3 linked regions of the Homo sapiens genome follow. The protein of the gene in region 3 purifies or fractionates together with the protein of the main gene of each other region. This does not show direct contact. Each region holds a gene or a part of one and is shown on either strand. Other genes may lie near its edges.

Region 1 (7,884 bases), on a different chromosome or scaffold from region 3:
TAACACCCAATACGAATAGAGCAAAAGCACTAAATAGAGATATCCAGCCTTCTATAATTTTCAGGTTAAAACAACCTTCTCTTGCATGTTTATTTTCCTGTTTGTCTCTTAGGGTTACAGAGTCAGAGGTTCTAAATTCCAATCTCAGCTCTACTATTTCCTAGCTTTGTAACCTTCAGCAAAGCACATAACCATGTAAAATTTAATTTTATTCATTTGTAAAATGGGACTAATAAATCTAAAGTGCTTATCGTAGTGCCTGATACATAGTAAAGCTCAGCTCTCAATGAACTGTTGCTGCTGCTGCTGTTGTAGTTAAGTCTCCCCAGTCCTGAAGGGGTCATCATGAAAGATTTTTGGCTACCATCCCATCTCTTTCCTCTTATAGCTCAGAGCTCATTAATTATGTCCTGTATGTACCCGTTGCTACATTCTTCTTTGCTAACTTTCTCCTTGTTCCCTTTCTGTCTTCACTTACCAATGGTGGGCAGTGATGTAACGTTTACTGGGCAAAAATTAAAATCTTCAACTGATTTTTAATGCCTCAAATCCTCTTTCTAGCTTTAATGTTAGTTAGAAGTTCTTTATGAGGCCGGGCGTGGTGGCTCATGCCTGTAATCCCAGCACTTTGGGAGGCCAAGGCAGGCGGATCACCTAGGTCAGGAGTTTGAGACCAGCCTGACCAACATGGGGAAACCCCGTCTCTACTAAAAATACAAAAGTAGCCGGGCATGGTGGCACATGCCTGTAATCCCAGCTACTCAGGAGGCTGAGGTAGGAGAATCGCTTGAACCCGGGAGTCGGAGGTTGCAGTGAGCTGAGATCCCAGGTTCACACCATTCTCCTGCCTCAGCCTCCCGAGTAGCTGGGACTACAGGCGCCCGTCACCACACCCGGCTAATTTTTTGTATTTTTAGTAAAGACAGGGTTTCACCGTGTTAGCCAGGATGGTCTCAGTCTTCTGACCTTGTGATCCATCCGCCTCAGCCTCCCAAAGTGCTGGGATTACAGCTGTGAGCCACCGCATCCGGCCCAAAAATAATTTTTCTCAGTGAGTTCTGCAGTTATGCTAATAAGTATTTATAAAATTTTTAGAAATATTTATATGAAATTTTTTAAAAAGATCCTAGAGTTATTAACATTTCTGGCTGCGTGTCCCATCCTGGCTTTGCCAAGTAAGTATTAATTGTCCTCATAACTGCAGATGACTGATAGTGTTCCGTTATTTATATGGTTTTCCAGCAGTTGGAAACATCTTCTGTTGCAAAGGACAGTTTGGGGTTTAGTGCACATCTACCGACTGTTTCATGATAAGACAACTATAGAATTGAGAATAATCATTTAGAAACTTTTGTGGCAGTTTGACATTGCTACAGCATCCAGGCATGTGATAATTTTTCGAATAATTCATTTTTATTGCATTTTACAAAAGTTCTATTTATAATAGTTTCAAAGTTTTTAAAAAATAATACCTCACCACAGATAGTTTGAGAAGCACCTTTAACATAGGCTTCTTTTTCAGCTACTTTAAAAGATACTTTTTTGTTTTTAATTTTCTAGGGCCCTTTCTTTCATGGGAATGAGTATCTGTCTGGCTCTGATGTTCATTTCTTCCTGGTATTATGCCATTGTAGCCATGGTAATAGCTGGTATGATCTACAAGTACATTGAATACCAAGGGTGAGTGTGGATTTAATCTTGATCACTGCTAAAAGTAGCAAGACTAGCTAGTTTGGTTAGAGCCAGCTCAGTGAAAATATCTTAAGGACTCAGGTAACTTCATTTTCATAACTATATTTTGTACCCCTAATTCTTTAACCATCTTAATGATGCAAGCTTTTCATCACAAGGGAGATCCATTGAGAAAGTATGAATGGATCAATGGAAAATAACAAAGGACATTTCCAAATAATAATAATTAGTACTAAACAAAGTACAACACAAATGTAAATATTTTTGCTTATCTCTTCAGTCAAGGGGTTGTCTCTGAAATGAAAAAGAAATTAGTTCTGAACAACTTAGTAACTACTAAGACTTACAGCTTTCAAAAATGAGGACGAAATAACATTCTTATTCAGAAGATCACATTGAACTTTACTTTCTCTGCATTATTTTCAAAGTAACTTAAACTCCAGGTCTGTTATAATTTTCTAATCTAAATTGCTCTTTTACATTATTGTTTTGAACAATTACATAGAAGGACTGAATGAGTGACCCCTTCAGGCTTTATTGGGAACTGTTTGTGCAGTGCAGTCTGTTGGTGCTGTTGATCTACCTACATCAGGTTCATTATGTTAGTAAAGAACATTATGTAAATCATTAATCTGAGCTTTAATCTTCTACCTTGCACATGTGTGATTTTTAGATTCAGAAAAAAACTTTATTTTTTAAAATTATACTTACTATAGTTTAAATTTGTCTCTGCTCTTTTCTTTTTCTCACAGAGCTGAGAAAGAATGGGGTGATGGTATCCGTGGGCTGTCCCTCAGTGCAGCCCGGTTTGCTTTGCTTCGATTGGAGGAAGGACCTCCACACACTAAAAACTGGAGGTAAAGAAATCAACACTAGCAGTATTTGGCACATGGTTAACACACAAAAATATGTGTTTTGTTGATTTTAGGATAAGGAAACCATATGTGGCTCAAGGAATTGGTATAATGGACCTGTTTTGAACTATTCTAAATCCTTAATTTTTTTATTCCCTTTTCTTCATGTCGTTTATGATCAAGATTTCTACAATTTATTATTCTTCCTTGAAGACTGATCAACTTGAGATAGTACTGGGAGCATTCAAAATAATGCCCTTATCCTGTCATCTCCTGTGATCTCTTCCTTCTGTCAAATTACCTGTTTCATACAGATCTCCTGAATTAAAGGGTGGAGTCTGTCATTCTGTTCCCCAAACCCAAAATGTTTTCTCCTCCCCTCCAACCCCCACCAACCTCTTCACAGGCCTCAGTTGCTTGTATTACTGAAACTAGATGAAGACTTACATGTCAAGCATCCTCGCCTCCTCACCTTTGCCTCACAGCTCAAAGCAGGAAAAGGTCTCACTATTGTGGGCTCTGTCATCGTGGGGAACTTCCTAGAGAACTACGGTGAAGCTTTAGCTGCTGAGCAGGTAAGAGTCAGGCTTTTGAGGTATTGGAACTCAGTTTACAGCTTTGTGATGTTAAGTAGTAAGACCTCAAACTTCTACTTGAATCTTGTTCCTGAGTGATCTAGGAGGTTTCTCACTTAGTGCTGACCTTTGAAAGGACACTTTTTCCCAAATAATAAGATGAGCCAAAAATAGTTATTTATTATTTCTTCCTGTTTAAAGCATTACTAAATTATAAGATTATTAAGTCTAAACCTTATGTTCAAATATACTCCAAACATTAATCTAAGCACTGAGAAAAGTCATGTAAATAAATTGATCCCTTGAACTATGGAGAGGGTTCCTCTCAATCTTGTGACAACAAGGAGTAATGACCAAATTTTCTTCCTCTTTACTAATCTACGTGGTATCATGAGCAAGATTCCTTTGCCACTTCTGGTTAGCTGTATTGAACATTAAAGTTCTACTTTAACAAGGAAGTTGTTTTCACTCTAATACTTATTATATATGATAGAACTAATCCTATTGTTTTTGAAATGCCATTGTGTTCAATGGCATTTCAAAAGTTTTACTGTGGGGGGAGGGGGGAAGGATAGCATTAGGAGATATACCTAATGTAAATGACGAGTTAATGGGTGCAGCACACCAACATGGCACATGTATACATATGTAACAAACCTGCACGTTGTGCACATGTACCCTAAAACTTAAAGTATTTAAAAAAAAAAGTTTTACTGGATTTCATTTTGGAATCCTTTGAAATCCTAAACACTAGAAATGCTGAAGAAACATTACTCCAGAATGATGGTAAAAATTAATAAAAGGTACACAGGATTGAAAATCAGGAGAGCCTAGTTCTTAGCCGCATCACTGATTTAATCTGTGCCTTTGCAAAAATCATTCCATTTTCCATACCATTATTCCCAGGGTGGAGTAAGAGTAAATGAGATGATATCTCCAAATTGGTTTGACTAAATAAAGGAAGAGTAATGCAAATACAAGTGTCATGAATAATCACCATTAAAATGTCAAAAAGCATATGGGAATGGGAGAGGCGAAAAAGAAAACATACCTGAGAAAATTCTAAAGTGAAACTGAATCATCATACTGAGTTTCTGGTAAGATGAGTCAGGGCATGACTGGGGCTGAGGCAGGAAGGAGATCGTGTTCACAATAGTGAATCACCCTGGTCAACTGAGAAAGAATGTTGAATATTCACTTTGTAGAGATCCCTGTTCCCAGTTTTTTGGTATGGTGCAAAGGAACAAAAGCAGAACAGAGGAAAAAGCAGAGAAACTACATGTAGACAACCAGCTACAGAGGCAAAAATACGTAGTAAGCAAAAAGACAAAAGATCATGAAATTCCTTTGGGATAATTTTAACTTTTTGGACTTTTCTGTAGATGATATAGTATTATGAAGACTTTGGAAAAAGGTGGGGGATATAATATGGAGAAGGAACAATGGGTTAAAATGTCCAGAGTGAACCAGTTCAGTGTTGCGGTCCTGTGTCTCTTTCAGACCATAAAGCACCTAATGGAGGCAGAGAAGGTAAAAGGATTCTGCCAGCTGGTGGTGGCCGCCAAGCTGAGAGAGGGCATTTCCCACCTCATCCAGTCATGTGGCCTTGGGGGCATGAAGCACAACACGGTGGTGATGGGCTGGCCTAATGGCTGGCGTCAAAGCGAAGATGCCCGCGCTTGGAAGACTTTTATTGGTACTAACCATTTCTCATACAAACCTAAAGGCCCAAGTCGAGGGTATATAGTTAAATCTCTGTCACCCCCAGCCTCCTAAAGTAGAGACTATGCCATTGCTGAAGCATAGTCTTATAAGGCAACCTGAAAAACTATTGGTAGTAATACCCAGATTCTACCTACCCCCTTCAGCTTCACATTATGTTCATGAATTATTTCTGTCAAGTCTTGTGCTAGGAATTATCTCCAAAATTGCCGTGTTTTCATTTGTGATTTTCCATATTGATGTTCTCACAGGAATTGCAAGAATTGTTCTTCAGCATCATAATCTCTCAAATTCACATATCCCCCCTTAGAAATGTAGTAATGGGAATATACCTAGTAACATAAACTGTGGTTCTCAGTCTGTTAGCTATTCAGATTTTTCACAATGGTTTTTGATACGTAATGAGAAATAACCTACTAAGTAAATAGGACCCCTTGCTCAAAGAAGTGTGAAAAGAGCATTTCCTTGCTTTCCTGACATGCTAGGAAGCAAGGCAAGCCTAAGGATTCTTCTCTGCTTATTCTTTTTTCTCCCTAGGCACAGTTCGAGTGACAACTGCTGCCCATCTTGCACTGCTGGTGGCTAAAAACATCTCCTTCTTTCCCAGCAATGTGGAGCAATTTTCTGAGGGCAACATTGATGTGTGGTGGATTGTGCATGATGGGGGGATGCTTATGCTACTACCATTCCTACTGAAACAGCACAAGGTATTTTATACAACTTTTTTTTTACAAAAGTCTTTCTCCCTTCTGTCCTGGTTCACAGGACAGACAAATTCTTCCTCTGATTATAATAGTGTTGGGGTTTAGAATCAGAAGAGTTGGAAGTTATTCTAGGCTTTCCCATGATCCCACTTTCAAACAAGAGAAATCATTGTCTTTGTATTTGATACCTACTTATCTCCAAGTGAAATTCAGCCAATTAATAAAGTTCCATATGAGCCCTAGGGGAAAACAACAAGTGAACACATCTTTTTTTAAAAAATACTGAAAACTTAAGGTATATGTATATGTGTGTATTGCACGCATATATGCGCTCATTCCGTGGTAAGACTAATTAAATGAGATTTAAAATAGTAAATATATAGTCTGCATGTTGTCATTGATACACTGTCTGAATAAAGTACCCTCTTAACGTATCGTGAACCATCTTTTCTTTTGCCAGTGTTTTCTTGTTATGAAATTAAGGACTCCTTAAAACTGTATTAAATGTGGTGTTTAGTCAATCTTTTGCCCTAATACAATAACATAGCAAGTAGGAAGCTAGGAACAAATAGCCTTATACTACATATAGCAAGGTTCTTCTAGACCACAATGTCTAATGTCTTAGGAAATAACCTTTTTTGCCTCCTTGCTCTAATTTTTCACATGTGTATGTCACTCTCTCAGGTGTGGCGAAAGTGCAGCATACGGATCTTCACAGTAGCCCAATTAGAAGACAACAGTATCCAAATGAAGAAGGACCTAGCCACCTTCCTATATCACTTACGCATTGAGGCGGAGGTAGAAGTGGTGGAGATGGTGAGAAAGCTGAGTTTGAGATACAAGAGGTTCATTCCCCCATTCCTCTCCCTGTCTTCCTTGAATCTTTTCTGGTTTGGGAAATTTTTCAGATCTAAATGTGGATTAATCCCCTAGTGCCAAAAAAAAAACAAAAAAAAACCCTAATTTGTTGCCCTAAGTAGAATGTATATGTGATGCATGTTTGATGTTATTTTTTGGTTTTGCTTTCTTGTTTATTACACAGCCCTTATATTTCTGCCAGATTCTCATCTGCTTAATATAGTTTTATGAAATTTTTATTCATATATTCAGCTTAAAATCACACATGGCTTTTAAAAAAAACCTAACAGTATAAAAAAGAGAGACTGGAGTTTGTATTTTGTGTTTCAAGGCAACACATGTCTTGGTTAGATTATGGAAAAGACTCTCAGGGCCTCTGAATTTTATCTACAGTCACAAAAACATTTATGTAGCTCAATGACTAAACAAAGTAAGGGTGAAGCTTAGGTTAATATAGTGATGCTGTCCCTGGTTTAATTTAGTGACTGGAAATAAAAATGTATGGTTCATCCTTCTTTCTCCTTTGTGCTTTTTGCCCCTTTTATGTGATGTCTATGGCAGCATGACAGTGATATATCAGCATATACTTACGAGCGCACTTTGATGATGGAACAAAGGTCCCAGATGCTCCGGCACATGCGGCTATCCAAAACAGAGCGAGACAGAGAGGTGAGACATTACTGCATCAATCCAATCCGTGCTCTCTAAAGTCTGTCACTGAAAGGGATGATACTGGGCTGGGCATGGTGGCTCACGCCTGTAATCCCAGCACTTTTGGAGGCCGAGGCGGGTGGATCAAGAGGTCAGGAGTTCAAGACCAGCCTGGCCAAGATGGTGAAACCCCATCTGTACTAAAGTACGAAAATTAGCCGGGCATGGTGGCACATGCCTGTAATCCCAGCTACTCAGGAGGCTGAGGCAGAGAAGTGCTTAAACCCAGGAGGCGGAGGTTGCAGTGAGCCAAGATCACGCCACTGCACTCCAGCCTGCGTGACAGAGGAAGACTCTGTCTCAAACCAAAAAAAAAAGGGATGATACTATATTGTTTTCAAGGATGACAAATTCCTTCTCACTCTGTCAGTTATTCCACTATAACCCATTACTGCTTCAAAATAACCAAAGATGAAGCATAAGAGAAAATTTGGTAGAATAACTTGTGTTGGACCTTCTTCCTCAGGCACAATTGGTGAAAGACCGAAACTCAATGCTACGATTGACCAGCATTGGCTCTGATGAGGACGAAGAGACAGAAACCTATCAGGAGAAGGTGCACATGACTTGGACAAAAGACAAGTACATGGCATCCCGGGGACAAAAAGCGAAGTCAATGGAAGGATTCCAGGACCTGCTTAACATGCGTCCGTAAGTTTTCCCACTCCCAAGTTTATCATAAAATTACCTAATCAGTGGCACAAATGTGACTTTGCCTGGACACACAGGATGGAGTCTGTTCATTTCACCCTGAATCTAGCCACCTCA
Region 2 (7,884 bases), about 13 Mb from region 3:
TATTCCTGTCATCTGAAACAGACAGCTGCTTTATTCTTCTCCTGCATTGCTGCATCATAACTCACATGTGCGAAGGCACACAGAGCCTACTGCTGCCGGGTGTGCGTCCACAGAAGGCCAGGGCACTACTGGCGCTGTTCATTCCCTCACCACACGTAGGGTCCCCAACTCAAAGGCCAAAGGCAGCTGGGCCTTTCTAAAAGTTGAATCATCTGGATCCGGTGACCTTTGTCTCCTTGACTAAATTAATTTCATTTTCTCTTTATGGTGGAGAAGGTCATTCTATTTTTAACCAGAATATAATCTCTGCTGTGTTTCCTGACTCAACAGTGGTTTGGTTGCCTCTATTTTTTATTCTTTTGTGAGGTTTCAGACATATTCAGGGAGGAATGCCTGAAGAGCACCTTTAGAGACGTATTGCGTATTAACAGGATGGCATGCTTGGATGTGGTGTGTGTTTCCTGAAAGCCTCCAACAGCAGGCAGCTACTCAATGTTTAAAGGACCAGACTTGTAAAAATGCTATTTTAATTGTTTTGAAATATGCCTATCTATTCTTAATCATCTTGCTGACAGATTTTGTTTTTCTTGGTGGAACGAAAGACACCTGTCTGATTAATCAGCAAACTGCCTGGAAACGGAATTATTATTTAGCCAGGGGGAACAATGGGCATTGCTTTCTGAATACGTTTCTATCAACACAAAACACTGTCTGGCATTTCTGTGCACAATGATGCTATTTACCCCCAAGTAAGGCCCAAAGTGCAGATTAAGTGCAGGACTCCAGAGTGAGGGATGGATATGCATAAAAACCCTCCCTCTACAATGGAGGCCGCACAGCCTGGGCTCTAGCCCAGCAGTTGCTTGGCAAGCAGTGGGTCTCCCAGGCTCCAGAACAATGCGCTCTCCCTGCTTGGTGAGGGTGCCTGCAGCGCCTGCTAGCCAGGGCTTGCCTTGGCACAGTCACCCTTGCAGGTGATGGGGCGTCATGGAGGATCATGGGCCATATCCAAATGAAAGCTCTCTGCTCCTGCATCCTGCCCAGGGCTCGGCACTAACTCCAATCTCAGGCTACTTTGGCATGTGGGTAACCTTGCCCAGGAGGCCTCTGTGAAGTCAGTCTATGCCTTTAGTCCTCTGGAGTCACAGTTACACCAGTATTGAAACAGATTCTGTGGTTTTGCTTTTCTTTGAAATGATTTCCTCAGGTTTTCCATTTGCTCAGCTTTTCTAAATGCTTCATTCCCTGAAATCTTGTTCCAGGAAACATTAAGGGCTAGTGACTCTTTATATTTTCTACATTGAAGGCCACTTCAACAAGCTGATGAAAGATAACTGCTTTTCTCAAAATATCACATTGCTTTTCATAAAGTTCACTGAAACCAGCTCAGAGACCCCTGCTCCAGAGCAATGACCTTGTACAAGGTCAGTGTTTCAAGGAATCATGTCCCACATCCCCACTACCAAGCTTAAAGCAACTTCTCTCCAAACTGCCAGTGAATCCTTTCATCCTTCAATGAACAAAGGGTCAACTTGAAGAATATGCTACTTTTGACAAATTCTGTTAATATTCAATAAATTCTAAGTAATTAAAAAAAATTTTGGGGAGTGGCAGGTTCCAGAGAATACCTTTTCTTCTTAGCAGAAAGTTCCCCTTCCTCTGAATGCCACTGTAACAGATGGACAGAGCATTGAGCCTTAAAGATAAACTGACTCAGGCAAATTGCCAAGAGAAGCAAGACCCAGAACCTCTCCTAAGGTTCTCTGCAAAAGAGCCCAGATTGGTCTCAACAGCTGAAAGACCGCAACAGATCCCAACTGCCCTCATGATCCAGCCCCATGAGATGGTGCTACATCCAGTCTACAGTGCAAAGCCAGGTAAAGCCAGGACTCCACCAGAAATTAGGCACTTTCTATGTGCCAGACACTGTGCTAAGAGTTACACCCATACCATCTTCCATAACCCACACAACCTCTCTAGGAGGAAGTGGATTCTATCCCCATTTCAAAGCCTAAGCTTCTACCCACTAGGTTATCCTGCTCAAGGGTGTGGAAAGAAGTGCTCCTCTACCAGTCTGGGCCAGGAGCTCAGCTCAGCTCAGCTAGGCCAAGAGGCAGTTCCTGCCTGCTACCTTCGTCCAGCCCAGCCTAGTGGTGTGGCCACTTGCCCTGGCATCAGGCTTACTATCTAGATGCAGCTGCGAAGAAGTAAACAGGACAATTAGTGTTTATAGTAAGGGATTACTCATAAAGGTTTGCCCAGATTGGCCGGGTGTGGTGGCTCACGCCTGTAATCCCAGCACTTCGGAGGCCGAGGTGGGCGGATTACCTGAGGTCAGGAGTTCGAGACCAGCCTGACCAACATCCTTGAAACCCCGTCTCTACTAAAAACTACAAAAATTAGCCAGGCACGGTGGCATGCACCTATAGTCCCAACTACTCAGGAGGCTGAGGCAGGAGAATCGCTTGAACCTGGGAGGTGGAGGTTGCAGTGCGCCGAGATTGCATGACTGCACTCCAGCCTGAGCGAGAGAGCGAGACTCTGTCAAAAAAAAAAAAAAAAAAAATTTTCACCCAGATTAAACATTCTAAGGAAGAGCAGAGAAAAATAAATGAACCAAACAAAGATTTAAAAAGTCAATGGCTAACCTTGCTAAAAACAGTTTGCATTTGGTATTTTGCCAAGAGTGAACTTTGTTCTCAAGTGGGTTTATTTTTACAACCTCCAAGTGCTAAATTTAACCTTGTTGGCTGCACTTGCTGCTGGATTCGGAGGGCAGATGCTGCTTGTTCTCAAATGGCACTTGGGTTGTGTGGAGGCTCTGCATAGCCGCTGTACTTAAATGCCAGAAATAGATTTTTAAGGGGTTTGTGCTGATAACTGCCATTTGGAACTTGTGGGTACACGCATCATGCTTACTCACTGGATTTTTTTTTTTTTTTTTTTTTTTTAGATGGAGTCTCGCTCTGTCACCCAGGCTGAAGTGCAGTGGCACGATCTCAGCAGACTGCAACCTCCGCCTCCCGGGTTCAAGAGATTCTCCTGCCTCAGCCTCCCAAGTAGCTGGAATTACAGGTGCGCACCACCACACCCAGCTAATTTTTGTATTTTTAGTAGAGAAGGGGTTTCGCCATGTTGGCCAGGTTGGTCTCGAACTCCGGACCTCAGGTGATCCATCCTCCTTGGCCTCCCAAAGTGCTGGGATTACAGGCATGAGCCACCACACCTGGCCACTCACTGGATTTTTATTTATACCTGGAGAGTGCCGAAGCTCTGAACTAGGCCTCATGGGGATGGGGACAAAAGCTGAGAAACTACCTCTGGTGCAATCCTTACCATGAGCTCTTTGTATAATTCCAGCATCTTACTGCCACAGAGGAAGATGTGGGGCAGGCGGGTGTTTGAAGAATGTGAAATGCAGATTTTCATCCAGTTCTTGCAGAAAGCAACAAAGTCAAAGCCCTCCCAGGACCCAGACAATGGGGATTTTCAGGACATACACTGGCTTTCACCTGATTTGGATCCATGTATATACTGCCTTTTTATTGAGACAGGATCTCGCTCTGTGGCCCAGGCTGGAGTGCAGTGGAGTGATCACAGCTCACTGCAGCCTTGATCTCCCAGGCTCGACCTCCTGAGTAGCTGAAACCACAGGCATGTGCTGCCACACCTGGCTTATTTTTATACTTTTTCTAGAGATGGGGTTCCCAGGCTGGTCTCAAACTCCTGGACTCAAGTGATCCTCCTGCCTCGGCCTCCCAAAGTGCTAGGACTATAGGCATGAGCTACCATGCCTGGCCTATATACTGCCTTTTAATATGAGGCCTTTATCCTGCTCTAAAATTCTTTCCTGATTTTTGATTCTTGTAAAATCTAGTTTAGCAATGGGGTAGAGTATTTCCTGAATCCTCAGTGTTTTTCAATAAATTGGAATTTCCTCTTCCTGTTTAATTTCCTCTTATATCCCAGAGTCATTGCTCACCAACTTCCTAATGCACCTTGAGAGAACATTAGGACTTTGCCGTACAGAAATAGGGGGCAGAGACCAGGTCCCTAAGGGTGAGCTAGGACACTAACCCTGCTGTTGTTATTCACAATCCTCAGCATTTTCATTGTTTTCTACTCCTGAGAATCCTCTCTTCAAAAGACATTTGTTGAGCACTTGTTCTGAAGCAAGGACTGTGCCAGAACCCTGGGACACAAAATTAGTAAGACCAAGTTCTTATTCCCAGACAGTCCATAGTCTTGCAGGGGAGACTGACATATATCCCTGGAACTCTAACACTGTGTGATTGGTACTATGTTAGCAGGCTGAACAAAGTGCTTTAAGAACACAGAGGAAGGAGAGCTTAACTTGAGGGCGGGGTTGGGAGTGTGTGATGGTCAATGAGGGCTTAGCAGCACTGTGACTGAAGAGCTAATTTTATCAGACTCCATTAGGTATTTAATGATACTCAGTAATAAGGCTTTAGAAATGAGTCAGAATTTGCTTTTTAAACATGAGCCAAAACTTCAGTTAAAAGGGTACCTCCTGAAAAATAAAAAAGAAAATAAAAATAATCAAAACCAAGTTTTAGAAGACACAGTCACTAACGCGGTATGTGTGTGTAGAATTCAAGTGGGACCAAAGGTGAAGCTGTTGGCTGAGACGGGGCTACCCCTGCTGCAGACACTCCTAGTAACACTTGCTGGAGCTGTAAGCCAGTGGCAGATGCTATCATCCCCACTGTCTCCAGAGAGGGAAATAGGGGGGAAGGCCTGCCACACCCAAAGGGGCAGACCCAAGGGGTCGCTTTTGTTCTGTGTGGCCACAACCAGCTGGAGGTGAGGGTAGGGGACACCTCATTCCATACCAGAAACCTCTAAACCTTTGTTCTGTTTCAAAAAGTTAGGCTGGCTCGATCAGATTTCCCTCTAGGGAGTGTGGAATTGGGAAACTGTGGACCAAATCAGCGAGCACCAAGAACTTACAGACGTGTGTGCTGCAGAAAGGGGCACTGACTGGTGAGACTGGGGAATTTGAGAGAGTGATAAGCAGGGTGGCAACCACTGTAAACCATGGCAAACAAGGTTATGCAAAAGGGAAGCTGGAAGAAAGAAAGGAAGGCAGCTGGTGGGGAGAGGAGAGGGGGCAGATTGGCAGAGAGAGGTAGAGACTCAAAGAGAGACAGACATACAGACAGGTGACTAGTGCCGCCTAAATTCCTAAGATTTCCAAGTCCTGGCCACATGTATCCTGTCAATAAATTTCCCCTACTTTTTTATAGTATCCTGAATGGCCTTTGTCCTCTGACTCTGTTCACATAAACATGCGTAGCCTCAAACAAGAAGAGAGGAGGGATCAGGAGGCTGGGGGTGCCTCCTGCTGGGAACCACAGCCACCAGCTAATGCCCCTTTTACAGTATCTTACTTTGTTGTTTCTCCTTCCAACAACTAGTCTGGATATAATCAATGTAATCCTTCTCTATTGTTTTCTCCAAGTCATGCAGAGAAGCTCCTCTGTAGGCCTTGTCAAAGTTTTTATCCACAAAGTAAGGCACCTGCAGGTTCTGAGTTTCTCTAGAAATGGTGTAGCCCAAGGTCCTGAAACAAGGAGAGAGAGGCTCATGTGAGCTCATAATATTTGGCAATATTACTCTTAGCACTGCCCTCACAGATATCATCATCATCATCTGCTCATAGAGCAGAGGCAGATATCATTTTCTAATATACCCAACACTTCTTATTTCCCTAGCAAAGTTGTAAGTATAACATCATCATAATTGTATTATGTAAGCAAGTTCATACTATGAATTCAGCTTCAGCATAGTTTATTCTCTTAAAGGACTCACCTCTCTTATACTGCTCTCTGTGCTAAAAGTAGAATGCTGAATGCTTAAAACAAACAATTTTTACGTTGTGTAGGATCTAGTATGGTACCTGACAGAGTAGGCTATTATAAATGCTGGTTGAATGAACTGATTATGTTATATAGCAAATTATTTACAAAAAAAACAGATAGCTCACACCAACCTAGAAGCAATATTTTGGACATGATAAAAAGTACTTCGCACATAGCTGCTAACTGAGAACTGCAAGAAACTCAGACAAAAGATTTCAATGATGCTTTAGAGCTAACTCTCTGTGGGTCCAAGACATCCAAAGGTATCTGGTGCTTAGCAACATTAATAAGAGTACTGAGCTGACTAATTCTAACCATAAGGAAACATAGAAGGGACCTCAAACTCAAGTTAAAACAATGTGACAGAAATGGTTTTCTTCAAACTGGACAAATTCTACATTAAAGGGGCTATATTTTATTTGGCCTTTTTCCGGCCCTCTCCTTTGATCCTCTCTAATTAGAGTAAGAGCTGAAGCCATGACTGCTCTCCCCTCACTCTAAGGTTTTGGGGGAGCTTACAGAGCAGGTCCGTGCTTACCCCGCTGGCCTCACAAGAAAGAAAGCTAAAGTGCCATATGGAAAAACATGAGAAGCTGGGAAACAGAGGGAATCAGGCCAGTGTGGCCTGATGGCAAAAACCTCTCTATGAAGGCTAGGTGCAGTGGCTCATGACGGTAATCCCAGCACTTTGGGAGGCCAAGAAAGGTGGAGGTCAGGCGTTCGAGACCAGCCCAGCCAACATGGTGAAACCCAGTCTCTACTAAAAAATACAAAAATTAGCCAGGTGTGGTGGCACATGCTTATAATCCCAGCTACTCAGGAGGCTGAGGCATGAGAATCGCTTGAACCTGGGAGAAGGGGATTACAGTGAGCCAAGATTGCACCACTGCACTTCAGCCTGGGAGCCTGGGTGACAGAGCAAGACTGCTTCGAAAACAAAAACAATAAAAAGAAACCTCTCTTTCAGCCTCAGCTTCGCTCTCTGTAAAAGGAAAATACTAGCCGGGCGCGATGGCTCATGCCTGTAATCCCAGCACTTTGGGAGGCCAAGGTGGGCAGATCACCTGAGGTTAGGAGTTTGAGACCAGCCTGGCCAACATAGTGAAACCCTGTCTCTACTAAAATATAAAAATTATCCGGGTGTGGTGGTGCGTGCCGCCTGTAATTCCAGCTACTCAGGAGGCTGAGGCACATGAATTCCTTGAACCAGGGATGTGGAGGTTGAAGTGAGCCCAGATTGCACCACTGCACTCCAGCCCAGGCGACAGAGTGAGACTCTGTCTCAAAAAACAAAAACAAACAAAAAAGGAAATACTGACCTGGATTGACCTGGAATGATGGTCTTGTCTACAGTGATCACTGACAAAGACTCTTCCTGTTATATATTGTCTAATAAATTCTACTTTTAAAAGGTTTTTTTCCCACTAAATTATAATAATGAATAATAATTTATTATTCATTATTAACAAAAAAGATAATCTAGTGATTCTCAAACTTCAGTGTGGACCAGAATAATCTAGAGGGTTTTTTAAAACTCAGACTTCTGGTCCTACCCCCAGAGCCTCTAATTCAATGGATATGGAGGGGCCCTAGAATCTGCCTTTCTAACATGTTGCCTGTTGATGCTGACGATGGCTGGTCTGGGGACCAAACTTTGGGAACTGAATCAACTGAAAGAATTAATTGAAGAAATTTTTAAAAATCCTATCAGAGTTTATAATCTATACGCAAAAAGCATTACAAGGAATTTCTCTATTTTCAACAAAAACAAAAAAATTGAAAATAATCACTTGATCCCCATTATTAATACTATGCTCCGAGACCCACAGGGTCCAGCAATCCTATCAACAGCTTAACAGAGTCTTTCTAACTCTACCATGGTGTGATAATGAGTTCATCTAAACCTTAAATTCTACTGATCCTTCAAAAACCAGTTACTGCTGTTCTGCAGCTGACCAGATGATGTCACTATAGAACAAGACAATCTATTTCCCGAGGCACA
Region 3 (6,002 bases):
CAAAAGGAAAAAAAAAAAGTGTGTGTGTGTGTGTGTGTGTGTGTGTTTAATTTGTGGAGCTTAAATGCCCCAAAGAAAAACTACAGAAATACCAGTCTCTGTTTTGGGAGGTGAAAATAAGAGATGGGAAGGAATTCTGTGCTGTAGCAATTTATAATATGACAGACACACCCCTTCCAATCAAAAGATTCTTGTAAAGTACTATTAGGCTTGTGGTTGTTTGATCTCTTCTTTCTCCTTGCCTACCCATTGCAGAATTTTAAATTATTGAATTCAGAGAAACTTCTAATTATTCCTATAACAACAAGATGAATTTATATACACATTTAACAGTTTATTATTTATCTTTCACAATAAGATGTTTTCAGGACTTTGAAATAAATTAAATACTATTTTAAATGTTCTAAAAAGTTTTACATTATATAAGAAATCTTGTATAATCTTATGGAAAACTGATCCTAGATCTTATACAATTCATTCTTGTGTTTTAAGTGTTTTGTACTGAGACTCTTTGGGATCTAGTTTGCCTCTATAACTGTTATAGCTTAACAAAGTTGAAGGGAAAAACTGCCAGAAGAAATGATTGACTCAGAGTGAGCATTGTATACCTATCCTTGCACAGACTGTCTTCTGGTCTCCCATTTATCATCCATTTTCAGTTGTCTTGGTCTTAGTGTTTGCTATCTGTTGGGCCCCGTTCCACATTGACCGACTCTTCTTCAGCTTTGTGGAGGAGTGGAGTGAATCCCTGGCTGCTGTGTTCAACCTCGTCCATGTGGTGTCAGGTAAAACCTTAGCTGGATTTGGTGCATGACTAGTATTCAGGTAACAGCACCTTCTTCTTCATCTTGCTTAGATGCCTAAGTACTCCAATTTATCACGGGGATCTGCCATGCTATAATGAAGACATTTGATTTTTCTTTTATTCAGAGATTGATTATGTTTGATACTGTTCCAAATACATATATACCAGATCACTATTTTCAAGGCTACTTTATGGAAAACCTCAAGTCTAACTGTGATGATTACAGAAGGAAAATGGTCAAGGAGTGATTCCTTTGGTTATCCTCCAAATGGCCATGCAATTAAATTGGTTCTTATTTAGTAAACACCCATGTCCCTGAAATCTCATATTGCCTTTGGGAAGTATTATATCCTCATGAAGGAAAACTAAATGGTATTCATAGGTAATCAAGTTCTCCTTTTAGGCTACTGTAACTCTGCTTGTTGAGGATACCATAGTATATTGTGGAAACCATGGTGGAAAGGTCAGTAAGTCAGATGACCTGGATTTGCAACCCAATTTCACCATTGCTATTCTGAGTGATCTGGAGAACGTGGCTGCCTTCACACCAAAGTTTCCTCAACTGTAAAATGGCAAAAAAAAAAAAAAAAAAAAGCCTCCTGTACACAAACCATGGACTGATGGTAAGGAGCAAATGCAATAATAGACATTAAAGAGCTCTTTAAGCTGTAATTGCTGTATATCTTTCTATAATCATCACAAGGTCATTAGGTGGATATTATGATTAACATTGTATAGTCAAAAATAAAACCCTTCCACAAGAAGAAATGATTTGCCCTAAGGCACTTAGCTAACAAATAACCCACCCAAGTCATCTAACTTCAAGTTCAGTGTTCTTTCTACTAAAATGAAGCAAAGAATGACCACCTAGTTTCTTCTTTCTCAGTCAGTGACAGCTAACTCAGTGTTAGCCTTAGGCTCAGACCTCTTCTGTCCCCCCACCTCTCCTGGTCACCGGCTGATTCTATGGGCTCATTAGATTATAGAAGACATCACCGGAAAGGAAAGATAAGATCACCTTTTACAAGTTAAGCTCCAGATGTGTACAAAGCAGAAACAATGACATCTATACTGAATATTGTGTATACTATGTATTTTCTGTCACCCTCTTTTTTGTACTCAGCAGGCCTAATGTATAGCTTATTCCTGGACATTAGCACTTTCCTGTTCAACCATTTGCAACCAAAGCTCAAAAATATGTATACCTCTTAGTTTATCCTTTTGGTTAATCTGCGGAAAACAGAAATGTTTAAATAAATGAGAAAGCACTACAAGGTCAAATGAGACTTGACTAATTGACTACAATTCTCTGGATGCGTCAAGGCAATTATCTTAAGATTTTCAAGTTATAGCCTCAATAATGACATGATCCTGTTCAGATACCATCTCCCCCCTTTTATATTAGCCACTAGATTAAATCTAAATCTCTTAAACCCTACAGAAAATACCCCCAACTTGCCTTTTAATCCTCCAACTTTTATTATTTTTATTCATAGACCATATACTTATCAAATTGGTAATTAGAGAGTTCTGCACATTATTCCTGCACAATATGGCCATTCCTGCCCCTGAATACTTATGCGTGCTATATACCCTGTACCTGCAACACCCTCTCCTGTCTTCCTCAACTATCTCTTACCCATTTTGAGGCCTGGCTAGAGTTCAATCACCCCCCACTAAATCTTTTATGATTATCACAGTCCTTGTGTTTCTGTTATTATGTGAATTGCTATAGCATGATTTGTTATCTCATATTTGTTCTTAACAGATACTGCTTGGTATTGTTGTATTGTTAATTATTTAACTTAGCCATAAATCTTGTCTCTGCAGTACCATTCCAAGATCTTGGAGAACAAAGTCTAATTCACTACCTCCCAATGTGCTTTGAAGTTCATGGCACATAATAAGAGTTAAATCAATATTTATTTTTTGAATGAACTAATAGTATTAATGCATAGAAATATTCTCCTTTAACATTCTTCCATGTTTATTCTGTAAACAAGGCATATAGCATTCTGAATGTTCTGAACCACATAAATAAGGACAACAAGGAACCTTTTGGCAATATTACCCATCACTTGTTTTACATTCTTAGCCATTCTCAACCTCTCTGTGGATGGTATCTTAACTTTACCCTCACAATAATCCAGGGAGGTGGGTTAGGCTGGAAATCACATTCCCATTTTACAGAGAAAGAAACTGAAGTGCCAGGGTTTGTCTAAGGCCACAGGATATTAGAGGGCCAAGATCAGAAACTAGGTCCTCTGATTCCCAAACTTGGGCTGATTTTGGGCTTTAGAGAAATAAAATTTAAAAAGGCAATAAAGGAAGAGTGTATTCCAAACAGGAAAATGACAATGTGAAGGTTAATTGGTAGAGGAAATAAATGGTAAAATACAATTCTTCAAAAGGTGGAGGAACCATCAAGGGAAAAGGGTAGGTAGGAACAGCACGCTAGGGAATATTTCTTTGAAGCCGTATCTTAGCATTATAAGGAGTCTCAGCAGGAACTAAGCCTTGGCTGATTTACCTTCTTCCACTACTTGCAATCCCAAATTATAGATTTAAGTAAAATTCCAATGAGATAGAAACGTTTCTCTTCCCTCTGATATTTAAGCATCTTTCAGTCATGTTATAGAAACATGTTCTTTAATTAAACAAGTAGTGATCAAAGAAAGTTGCTGAACATCTCAGAGAGATCCCATGTCAGCCTAACTTACTCCAAGACTCTTTAATCTTTGTGTTTGATGGCTAAGTGCACAGGTGGAAGATCTATTCAGAGCATTTTGTATTCTCAATTAGATGCTTGTATGTATTATCACTTATAAAAGAGGCAATCACAGGGATTCTAGGCCTTTGTAAATATTTATGCTTCTTCCTTCATGCCGGTCACTTAAGTTCTTCTCAGCACATCTTTTTAAATCCCCTGCATTCCAGGTGTCTTCTTCTACCTGAGCTCAGCTGTCAACCCCATTATCTATAACCTACTGTCTCGCCGCTTCCAGGCAGCATTCCAGAATGTGATCTCTTCTTTCCACAAACAGTGGCACTCCCAGCATGACCCACAGTTGCCACCTGCCCAGCGGAACATCTTCCTGACAGAATGCCACTTTGTGGAGCTGACCGAAGATATAGGTCCCCAATTCCCATGTCAGTCATCCATGCACAACTCTCACCTCCCAGCAGCCCTCTCTAGTGAACAGATGTCAAGAACAAACTATCAAAGCTTCCACTTTAACAAAACCTGAATTCTTTCAGAGCTGACTCTCCTCTATGCCTCAAAACTTCAGAGAGGAACATCCCATAATGTATGCCTTCTCATATGATATTAGAGAGGTAGAATGGCTCTTACAACTCATGTACCCATTGCTAGTTTTTTTTTTTTTAATAAACGTGAAAACTGAGAGTTAGATCTGGTTTCAAAACCCAAGACTGCCTGATTTTTAGTTATCTTTCCACTATCCTAACTGCCTCATGCCCCTTCACTAGTTCATGCCAAGAACGTGACTGGAAAGGCATGGCACCTATACCTTGATTAATTTCCATTAATGGAAATGGTTCGTCCTGAGTCATCTACGTTCCGAGTCAGGCTGTCACTCCTACTACCAATGGCCACTGTGAGCCACAGAAGGAAGACATGTACGTGCTGTTCTACTTTATATGATGTGAGAAGCCAACATCAGTGTCCCTTGGCAGCAGTCTACAGGCATAACTTGTTTTATTGTGCTGAATTTTATTGTGCTTCTCAAATATTGCACTTTTAAAAAAATTGAAAGTTTGTGGCAATGCTGTTGAGCAAATCTGCTGGCATCTTTCTTCCCAAAGGCATGTGCTCACTTCATGTCTCTGTATCAATTGTCATAATTTTCGCAATAAACTTGATTATTATTATATGTGCTTATGGTGATCTGTGGTCAGTGATCTTTGATATTACTATTGTAATTATTTTGGGAAACCTATGAACTGCTTCCATAGAAGATGGAGAGCTTAATAAATATTGTGTTGTTCTGACTGTTCCACCCACCAGCCATTCCCCATCTTGGTCCCTCTCCATGGGCCTACCTATTCCCTGAGACAAAACAATATTAAAATTAGGCCAATTAAGAACCCTGCAATGGCCTCTAAGTGTAAGTGAAAGGAAGAGCGGCAAGTCTCTCACTTTAAATCAAAAGCTAGAAAGGATTAAGCTTAGTGAGGATGTAAAAAAACTGAGATAGGCTTAGAGCTATCTATGCCTCTTGTAGCTTTTAGCCAAGTTTGGAATACAAAAGAAAAGCTCTTAAAGAAAGTTAAAAATGCTACTCTAGTGAACACATAAATTATTGTAAGAAAACAAAACACCCTCATTGCTGATACAAAGAAAGTTTGAGTGGTCTGGATAGAAGATCAAACCAGCCACAACATTCCCTTAAGCCAAAGCCTAATTCAGAGAAAGGCCCTAACTCTCTTCAATTCTATGGAGACAGAGAGAGCTGAGAAAGATGCAGAAGAAAAGTTGGAAGCTAGCAGAGGTTGGTTCATGAGGTTTAAAGAAAAAAGCCATTCTCTATAATATAAAAGTGCAAACTGAAACATTAAGTGCTGATGTAGAAGCTGCAGCAAGTTATCCAGAAGTTACAGCTAAGATAATTGATGAAGTTGGCTACAGAAAAACAAAAAAGATTTTTAATGCAGATGAAACAGTTTTATCTTGGAAGAAGATGCCATCTAACTAAGGCTTTTATACCTAAAGAAGAGAAGTCAATGTCTGACTTCAAAGCTTCAAAGAACAGGCTGACTCTCTTGTTTGGGGATAATGCAGCTGGTGACCTGAAGTTGAAGCCAATGCTCATTCACCATTCTGAAAATCCTAGGGCCCTTAAGAATTATGCTAAATCTACTCTGTGCTTTATAAATGGGGAAACAAAACCTGGGTAACAGCACATCTGTTTACAGCATGGTTTACTGAATATTTTAAGCCCACTGTTGAGACCTACTGCTCAACAAAAAGATTCCTTTCTAAATATTACTGCTTATGAATAATGCACCTATTCACCCAAGAGCTGTGATAGAATTGTACAAGGATATTAATGTTTTCATGCCTGTGAACACAACAGTCATTCTGAAGCCCATAGATCAAGGAATAATTTCAACTCTGAGAAATACATTTCCATGAGATGGTAGCTGCCATTGATAGTGATTCCTCTGATGGATCTGG

Evidence for each region.
Region 1: the proteins of NMUR2 (region 3) and SLC12A6 purify together in Homo sapiens (affinity purification with mass spectrometry; 2 studies listed by BioGRID and IntAct, with this or other methods). This does not show direct contact.
Region 2: the proteins of NMUR2 (region 3) and DNAJC18 purify together in Homo sapiens (affinity purification with mass spectrometry; 2 studies listed by BioGRID and IntAct, with this or other methods). This does not show direct contact.

The regions. Positions count from the first base shown.
Region 1 is NC_000015.10:34,235,898-34,243,781, reverse strand, and holds part of SLC12A6 (solute carrier family 12 member 6), read left to right. Parts: exon of another isoform or gene 1-656; intron 657-1,560; coding exon 1,561-1,680; intron 1,681-2,444; coding exon 2,445-2,549; intron 2,550-2,952; coding exon 2,953-3,121; intron 3,122-4,621; coding exon 4,622-4,817; intron 4,818-5,380; coding exon 5,381-5,550; intron 5,551-6,231; coding exon 6,232-6,363; exon of another isoform or gene 6,364-6,392; intron 6,393-6,966; coding exon 6,967-7,074; intron 7,075-7,582; coding exon 7,583-7,767; intron 7,768-7,884.
Region 2 is NC_000005.10:139,414,642-139,422,525, forward strand, and holds part of DNAJC18 (dnaJ homolog subfamily C member 18), read right to left. Parts: intron 5,585-7,884; coding exon 5,412-5,584; intron 3,952-5,411; exon of another isoform or gene 3,361-3,951; intron 3,076-3,360; exon of another isoform or gene 2,954-3,075; intron 1-2,953.
Region 3 is NC_000005.10:152,390,242-152,396,243, reverse strand, and holds the end of NMUR2 (neuromedin-U receptor 2), read left to right. Parts: intron 1-659; coding exon 660-785; intron 786-3,742; coding exon 3,743-4,053; 3' UTR 4,054-4,698; downstream 4,699-6,002. UniProt on the Homo sapiens protein: Receptor for the neuromedin-U and neuromedin-S neuropeptides.